2 separate regions of the Homo sapiens genome follow, and region 1 is linked to region 2. Evidence: fine-mapped expression QTL. A gene starts in region 2. The other region holds a variant in brackets. All regions are shown on one strand. Distances are from middle to middle.

The links. PIP is the estimated chance that this variant, and not a neighbour inherited with it, causes the effect.
Region 1: its variant is the best candidate, but not a certain one, in a credible set for the expression of FOXI2 in subcutaneous fat (GTEx, PIP 0.60).

Annotation. Positions count from the first base shown.
Region 1 is chr10:127,825,413-127,829,789 of GRCh38, forward strand. No RefSeq gene overlaps it. Among named protein-coding and RNA genes, the nearest start is that of CLRN3, 65 kb to the right of the region's middle. The variant A/G (reference allele first, on the strand shown) is at 1,919.
Region 2 is chr10:127,734,906-127,739,282 of GRCh38, forward strand. It overlaps FOXI2 (forkhead box I2), which reads left to right and starts at 2,280. Exons shown (of 2, transcript NM_207426.3): 1 at 2,280-2,879; 2 at 3,615-4,377. The coding sequence starts at 2,369. The coding sequence ends at 4,060.

The DNA.
Region 1 (4,377 bases), 91 kb after region 2:
AAATATTTTAAAATAAAATAAAGAATCCCTAAACCCACCTATGACCTTTAAGTCCCCATTTTGAGATGTCCCATCTTTTCTGGGCAAACCAATGTATACCTTCCATGTATTGATTTTACCCACAATTGCTGTCTCCCTGAAATGTATAAAACCAAAGTAGAACCTGACGGCTTCGGGAGCACCTTCTCAGGGCCTCTTGAGACTCTGTTTTCCTGGGCCATGGTCATTCACATGGCTCAGAATAAACCTCTTTAGCTATTTTGGCAGAGTTTGGTGTTTGTGCCATCACGACAAACGAAGCAGTGATCACACGGTGCTCATTGTTGGCCTTAGGGAGGCCTCTGGCTTTCACAAGTTTGTATTTTCTCCATTTTGGAGAGTGTGAGCAGGAGTTTTGATTCAAAGCTAGGTAAAACAAATCTTCCTCCATCCTGATCTAGCACCTTAGCGGGAGCCAGCCCAGAAGAGAGTGCTTTACTGTTAGGCCTTCTGGGAGGGAGCAGGCTGAGAGGGCTGCCAGCCGGGCGAGCCCCCGAGAAGAGCCAGGGAGGAAGGCGACTTCCTGGCAATAGAGGCTCATTACTTCTGTGGCACTCAGGTTGGCCCTTAGAGGGTTCACGGACTTCCTTGGAAAAACTGCTCAGAGCTCTGCGGAAAAACCCACACAGTTTCCCCAGCACATAACACCACACATGCAGAGCAGGGTGAAGGGATTTGATTTTTCTCACAGGAAGTGCCTTGATGGAAGGGAAATGGAAGCCTTTCATTTTTGCATAATTCTGTAAATTATATACATTTTGCCAATTCAGCCCAAATTGGTATTTTCCTCTCCCTGATTCCTATTTCATTTACACATAATACTTAACATGCAACTCTGGTTTCCAGACTGCCTGGAGAAAATAGGTTTGCCTCTGCTGTCCTAGCCTCCTGCTGGCTGCGTGCTCCGCGAAGCACCGTGCCGTCTCGAAGCATTGCTTGTGTGCATATGTGAAGGAACAAGAGCCTGCAGCCATGTTGCTTACAGGGCTTTCCAAGGCTCTCACTTCATGTTAGAGAGGGCGATTCCCATGCTGAGTATTCATTCGTGTGTCTGAGCAAAGTCAGCCGGAAAGAAGTATTTGTCACAGTGCTGCAGGTCCCAGAGGGAGGCCTGGCCCTCATGAGCAGGCTGCAGTGGGGGCTCCACACTACCAGACCTCAGCCTTCCACTGGCCTCTGCTTCTCAAAAAGTCCAGAGGCCTTGAGTCTGTGTTCTCCAGCCACAGCTAAAAGCCCCCCCCGAAACAACCAAGACATTCCCTTATTTGGAACCTGTCTTTGTGGCTCAGCAAGGCAGATATCTGCCTTTTGTCAGCCATTTGCTATGTCATGAGAAGAACACAGCTGCCAGACAGAGGAAACCCAATTCTTATTGACTCCTGGGAGGTCTTAAGGAATTTATTTCCCCCACCGTGTCTCAGTTTCTGCAGGTGTACAACCAAAAGCTAGGATCCCCAAGGCCTACAGAGTCCAATATGATAGTCACTAGCCACAGGTAGCTATTTAAATTGTGTTTGAATTAATTAAAATTAAGTAAAAGTGAAAATTCCATTCTTTGGTCAACTAGCCACTTTTCAAGGGCTCAATAGCCACGAGTCACCAGCAACTCCCATACTGGCTGGTTCAGGTAACAGAACATTTCCATCAAGGCTGGAAGTCCCGTGGGACAGTGCTGATCCCAAGATTCCTAAGGCCCTTCCAGGGCTGGCAATCCAAGCAGAGGTGGGTGAGCCCTGGTCTGCCTCCCCTCTGGTTGCTGTGGGTGTCCAGGCATGGGTGTGTCCTTTAGTGCTCATGGTTCAGAGTAAGTGTCAGGAAACCTTGGCCTTGTTACTATTTTGAGTGTTCTCAGGGACCCTTTAAGGCACAGTCCAGGAAC[A/G]AAAGTCCTCAAGTGACCTGGAAGAGGATGTTTCATTGGCCCAGAGAGTACTAGCCTGAGATGAGGAAACTGAGACCCAGAGAGGCTGAGGGTAGAGGGAACCAGGGGAGACTGTTGCTTGCTGGCCCCATGGAGGAAGGAGGGAGTTTTCTGCAGATTCAGGAGGGATGGAAGGAGTGGTGCTCCCAGACCCGAGGCCCTATCCTGAGAGACGGGTGTCTGCATGTGGCAGGCCTTTATCACAATTGTTGCCGGCCACTGAAAACTCTGCCCAGAGTTTGTCAGTACAACAGACTGACATCCTAGGTGCCAGTCAGAGAGGTCCAAGGCTCTGTGGGTCTAGAGGAAGTGCTTGAGCCCCCCACTGGTGGCCACCTTTCTTGAAGAGCTTGGCCAGGTTCAGCCGTGGAGCCTGTCCAAAGTGAGGATGTATGCATAGGCTCTGGGATGCAGGGGCCAGACAGGGCTGGCTACAGTCCCTCCTTGGCTTGTCATGCCTGGGTGGCAGCTGAAAAAATCCTCACACCTGCTGGACAGACCCAAGGCCTGCTTTACTCACCCACACATACCTTGACTTGATTTGTGTGCCCAGGTGTTTGAGAGAAAAGTCCTGAAAGAACAGCACCCAGGAATCCAGAGGGAGTAGGGCCCAGTGTGGGGGCTCCCCTGCTGGAGTGTGGGAAGCAGCCCGGTCACTGCGTCCTTGCTCTCTCTTATTCATCCTCAAAATGTCCCAGAGGTTGCTGTTGGAACCCTCACCTTACAGAGGTGGATACCAAAGCTCAGAGAAGTAACATAGTCCAAGCCACAGCGCTTAAAAAGTAGTAGAGCCAGGACTCAAAGCAAGCTAGGCCAGCCTCCCAGCTGCTTTGTTTCCACTCTTCCACACAGAAGTCTGATGTCTGACCCTATCTGGGATGGATCATTCATTCATTCACTTAATTTCTTTTCTTTTCTCTTCTTTTCTCTTCTCTTCTCTTGTCTTCTCTTCTTTCTTTCTGTCTGCCTTTCTTTCTTTCTCTTTCTTTCATTTGTCTTTCTTTTGTTCTTTATTTTTTTGAGACGGAGTTTCGCTCTTGTTACCCACGCTGGAGTGCAATGGTTCAGTCTCGGCTCACTGCAATCTCCGTCTCCTGGGTTCCTGCCTCAGCCTCCCGAGTAGCTGGGATTACGGGCGCCGGCCACCATACCTGGTTAATTTTCATATTTTTAGTAGAGATGGGTTTCACCATGTTGGCTAGGCTGCTCTCGAACTCCTGACCTCAGGTGATCTGCCTGCCTCGGCCTCTCAAAACACTGGGATTACAGGTGTGAACTACTGCGCCCTGCCACACTTAATTCTATCAGCCCACCTGAGCTAGGTGCGGGGGCACAGCCGTGCACAGCAACATGAGGGCTCATCTCACAGCACTGACAGAAAGCAGCCTCATCCAGTGAACTGCCTCTGCCGTGAATTCTACAGTGACCCAGCTTTCGAAACCGCTTGCAATGAGGACACCTATTCTAATTAAGAATGGTCAAGCTGGACTTCCTTGAGGAGGTCAACTTTGAGCTGAGTTAGGTGGCCTCCTAATGCCTCTGTTTTCTTGTCTGTAAAATGGGAATAATGGAAATCCCCATTGTGTCTCCTCCAAGGGCTGCTCTCAGGAGCCTCTCATGGGAGGTGATGGTAAGGGTCTTTGCAGACATCCTCTGAAAGTAGAATTACAAAGGCCCAGGAAAGAATGCTGGGCCAGGACCTCACATCACTCTTGGTCAAGGCCTTTTAAAATGCATTTACCCACCATCCCCCTTCAGCGAGACCAGAACACACCGGCTTCAGGGACTGGGCTCTCCCTATATTCCTCAGTGTTGAATAAAAGATAGAGACAGAATCTCTAAATTTAAAAACTTTTCTTCAGGAGGCAAGAATTGCAATTCAGGGCATACAGACCAGGTGGTCTTTGTTATGTCCAAAGAACAAAAAGAAGGTTAAAGAATTTAGAGAAATTTTATATATTGTTCTGCAAGAAAGTTCATTAGATTAGCACTAGTAAAGTTTTGGGGAGCTGGCAAGCTCCGATTGGTGAGTGATGGTGGTGGATACAACTAGTCTTAAAGTTGCAGTAGGTTGTTTCAGTAGCTGTTAGATAAAACTGGTTTCAGGTGGCAGCAAGCAGTTTCAGCAGCCAGGCTGGCAGAGAATTCAATCCTCGGAGCAATGTCATGTGCCCTGAGGGCTTTATCCTCCTGGCCTCTGGACTCTGTTTTAGTTGGGTATGGCAAGAATGACCCAATTTGTGTGATCAACTTTTACATTAGTAAGAGCTTGAACCACAGGCCTGGGAGAGCCAAGCCTGGCTCTGACTCCAGCTTCTTCCACTGATGTCTTTTCAGTGACTTTCAATGAGCTCAGGATGCCAGGAGCCCAGATGGCCGGCTCTTCCCCATCAGTATCTTTGTCTTCACTATTTGGTCAC
Region 2 (4,377 bases):
AAGGAGCAGCTGCTTTTGTCCAGTACTTCACGTCAGCCGCTAGAAAGCAGGGACGGCCAGGCGGGCTCTTGCAGAACCTGCCATGCCGGTGGCCCTGCGGGTCCGGCTGCAGCTCCCACCTTCGCACTCTCTCTGGGATGATTTGGGTCAAGGCAGAGCTGTGCAGCCTCTGTACATCCTCATCAAGCACGGACTCAAAAACTGAGTCCTAATCAGCAGCCGTTTCAAAATTCCTGAAGGTGTGGAGTCATCCCAGACCCTCTGGCAAGCTCCGGAAGGGTGTTATGGGAGGAAAGTGGGTGTCTATAGGCGGTGATATGGGTTTGCACCATAAGGAGAGGATCCAAGTCCTGTTTGCTACACATGTGCTGAGGGAAAGACACTTTCTTCAAGAGGTAGTCACCAAAAAGCTGGTCACACCTACGGACAGCAGCATGGTTTCCCCTGAGGGGGGCACTGGAAATCGCTAAGCTGAGTGGCAGGTGGCACTGGCTGCTCTTTTGGGTGGAAGCAATAGACTGTGTTCACCTGAGACTCAGCAAGAAGAGGCGTGTCCCACCCCGAGTACTTCCCGTTGACCCCGCAACCGCCCCTGCAACGACGGGGATGGAAGGGGAGGGCGGCTTCGTAAAAGGCACCTGGGACCCCCACAACTAGCATTCCTTTGACAAAAATCAGAAATCTTTGGGAAAGGGGGAAGGAAAAGGGGGCAGAGTCCAGCCGAAAAGCCGACCTCAAAGAACCATTTTGGGGTATTTCTTTTCTCTTGACTGCTTGGGAAATGCCTTCGGTTCACCCACCACTTCTGAAGGGGCTTCACTTCTAAGGCGAGAGGCCAACGTCCCAACAGAGGGACTCTCACTTCTTTCTGCCATTTGTTAAATTGTTCCATAAATTAGTTGTTTTACATAAAATTTGGAACTACGATCTGGGAGGCCGAGGGGCTGCACCACCAGTAAGTCGCTGACTCAAATGGGCCCTTTAATCCCCAAACCCAAACTCTTTCCTCGATCGAACCGCTGGCCTCAACCTACAAGCCTCCTCCACCGCCAAAAGTCGGGAAGGGTTGGTCCTTTTGTTTTACAAATGAATTAAAATTAGATCCACAGGCCCGCGTAACGCTGGGGAATACCCAGGGCGAGGCCAGCTTCCAGGAGGTCAGCGCCAACACCGCCGGCAGGAATCTGGGGGGATGGGGAGGTCTCCTCATCTCTGAGCCTTGAGCACCAGGCCTGAATTTTCGCCTCTTTCGCACAGGTGCCCGACTCGGAGTCCGGGAGGCGGGCCCTCTTTCCAGGTACCCAGCCCAGCGTCAGCCTGGGTCCATCCTCCGCCACCCCACAGCGCGGGGAGCAGGGGAGGCCGAAAGCCGGGCAGCTTGGGGGGCCGGGATAACCCGGGCTGCAGCAACCCCGGGCGGCAGCAGGACTGGAGAGCTGGTGTCGGACGCACTGCAGAGACGTCCCTGTTTTCGGCGCGTCCTCCGACACCCAGCAGAGAGCTTGGCGCTCTCCGCTCTGCGCGCCCGAGGTCACAGCGCGGAGAAACCTGGCGGGGCCCCGGACTCCCCGGCTTGGGAAAAGCGATGACTGCCCTGAACTGCTGGGGCGTTCGAAATTTCCAGGGTCCCGACCCTCCGTGGGGTACGCGCGACTTCGGCGCAGATGTCAGTCCGCTGCCTTCCGGGTTGAGGGAGCGAGGACTCCAGACGACCCCAGGGCCGCTGTCCAGGCCCAGCCCCGCGTTCTCCACCTCGCCACCTCGCTCTGCGGCTCCAGCCTGGAGATCTACGGACTTCATTGCGATCTCTTGCGCAGTGTAGTCGCCCTCTATCCCTAGCCCCGAGTCCCGGGTAACCCAGGGGCCCCGGCGAGGCGAGTTTCTTTGGGGCGAGATGTCCCGAGCCGAGCAAAGGGGCCGCGCATTGGACGGGGCTCCCAAGCCACAGCCCTGGGGGCCTTGAGGAGTCGTGGTACGGTCCAGGGCAGTCGGGGCTGCGGGGCCCGTGAAGCCAGACGAGGCTACGGACTTAGGGTCCCTGCAACCAAGACCGCGAGCGACTGTGGACTCGGGACGGATCGCACAAAGGAGGAAGGGGGAATCAGAGGGGCGTCCGGTCCAGGACGTGTCAGGCCTGGGCGGGGCGGAAAACTGACACCAGGGCGAGGACAAGGATTTCGCTCCTCCAGGGCTGCCAGGGGAGGGGCTCGCCACCGTCACTCTCCATGGGCTCTGGCCCCGACGGTGTTTAAAGGGCGGAGGGCTGGGCCGGGCTGGTCGCACCCGGGCGCTGCTGGCGGCCAAGCTGGATGGGTCGCCAGTGAGTTTCGGTGCGGCACCGCTGGCCCAGGCCCGGGCGCGGCTGGACATGGCCACCTACTGCGACGACCTGGGCCCCTCCTCGGCCCCGCCCGGCCAGGCCCAGGCCACCGCGCACCCCCCGGGCTATGAGCCAGGGGATCTGGGCGCGGTGGGCGGGGGCCCCCTCCTGTGGGTGAACGCGCCAGCGCTCAGCCCCAAGTCCTACGCTTCGGGTCCCGGGCCTGCGCCGCCCTACGCGGCCCCGAGCTACGGGGCTCCCGGCCCGCTCCTCGGCGCCCCGGGCGGCCTGGCGGGCGCCGACCTCGCCTGGCTGAGCCTCTCCGGCCAGCAGGAGCTGCTGAGGCTGGTGCGGCCGCCCTACTCCTACTCGGCGCTCATCGCCATGGCCATCCAGAGCGCGCCGCTGCGGAAGCTGACGCTCAGCCAGATCTACCAGTACGTGGCTGGTAACTTCCCTTTCTACAAGCGCAGCAAGGCGGGCTGGCAGAACTCCATCCGCCACAACCTGTCGCTCAACGACTGCTTCAAGAAGGTGCCCCGCGACGAGGACGACCCAGGTAACAGCGGCGCGCCGGCTCGCTCCGTCCAGGACTCCCCATCTTCCCGCCGGGCCGCGGGCACTCCGGGGGTGGGAGCACCTTAGACAACCTAATTTCTCCCTGCGCGGTTGGGGATACCCGGGGAGGAGGGAGAAGGGGAAGAAGTGCTTGGGCATGGACAGGTTCTCAGACAGCGGCTGAGCCCACCACAGGCCCGCGTTTACAGTGCGGCGGTCCCGGGGCTCTCAATCTCTGTGCGCTCCTTCGGAGGAAGAAGCGGGAGAGCCAGCAAGCTGGGTGACCTTGGGAGTGACTCAACTTCCCTGGGCCTCAGTGCCCTACCTGGTAAAATGGGGAAGACAGCGCCTACCCCAAGGATGGGCAAAACAAATAGGATGCCCGTTTGGAAAGCTCTGGAGCCTACCTGGGGGCCTGGCGTGGTCTGCGCTGTCCTTGGCAGAGCGGCTGGCGGAGTCCCACCATTAGCATCTCGCAGGCCTTCCTTCACCTTAACGGGGCTCGGCCTTTCCCAGGGCTCCCTTCCTCCTCCTTTCTGGATTGTCACTTTCTTCCCAGTCCTGCTGTGGAGGCCCATCGGGTACAGAGTGCCCGTCAAGGGTGGAATGGGGGCGAGGACTCAGACCCTCTGTAAGGGCCAGCAGGGGATCTTTCTGAAGCTGACCTCCTCGCTGGCTCACACCACGGCCCGTCAAAGCTCGAACCTTCTGAACTGGGCTGTTTCTTCTTCTGCAGGTAAAGGCAATTACTGGACCCTGGACCCCAACTGCGAGAAGATGTTTGACAACGGGAACTTCCGAAGGAAGAGGAAGAGGAGAGCTGAAGCCAGCGCGGCCGTGCGCTCGGGAGCCAGGAGCGTGGGAGGGGCCGAGGCGCCAGCGCTGGAGCCCCCGAGCGCGGCTTGCCTGGACCTGCAGGCCTCGCCCTCTCCATCCGCACCCGAGGCCGCCACCTGCTTCTCCGGTTTCGCTTCTGCTATGAGCGCTCTGGCTGGCGGCCTTGGCACCTTCCCCGGGGGCCTGGCGGGCGACTTTTCTTTCGGGAGGCGGCCACCGACAGTCGCCACCCACGCTCCCCAGACCCTTAACCCCTCCCCTGGCTTCGCCCCTGGCCACCAGACCGCGGCCGCCGGCTTCCGCCTCAGTCACCTCCTCTACAGCCGGGAAGGGACCGAAGTTTGAAGGGAGGCTGGAGGCTAGCCGGGTGCGGGTCCAGAGGTGCTGAGCTCAGGCCTCCGGTTTCCCCTGGTGACAGCCCCACGTGTTGGCGTTGAAGGCCTTGGTGCCCTGGGAGGAAGCGCAGAGCCGGGGGCGGCTCGGCCAGCAGGGAGCTGGGCTGAGCGGCTCTTGGGCTTTGGGGTGGGTGGCCCTTCTGCTGTGCACCCCTCACCCAGGCGACCTTCGGAACCTCCCTGCTCTGCCTCTAAGTCCAGCCGCCCTGGGCGTCTAGAACCTGTGCTCTCGAGGGATTTGCCTTGAAGGGGCGGCGGGTCGGCCCT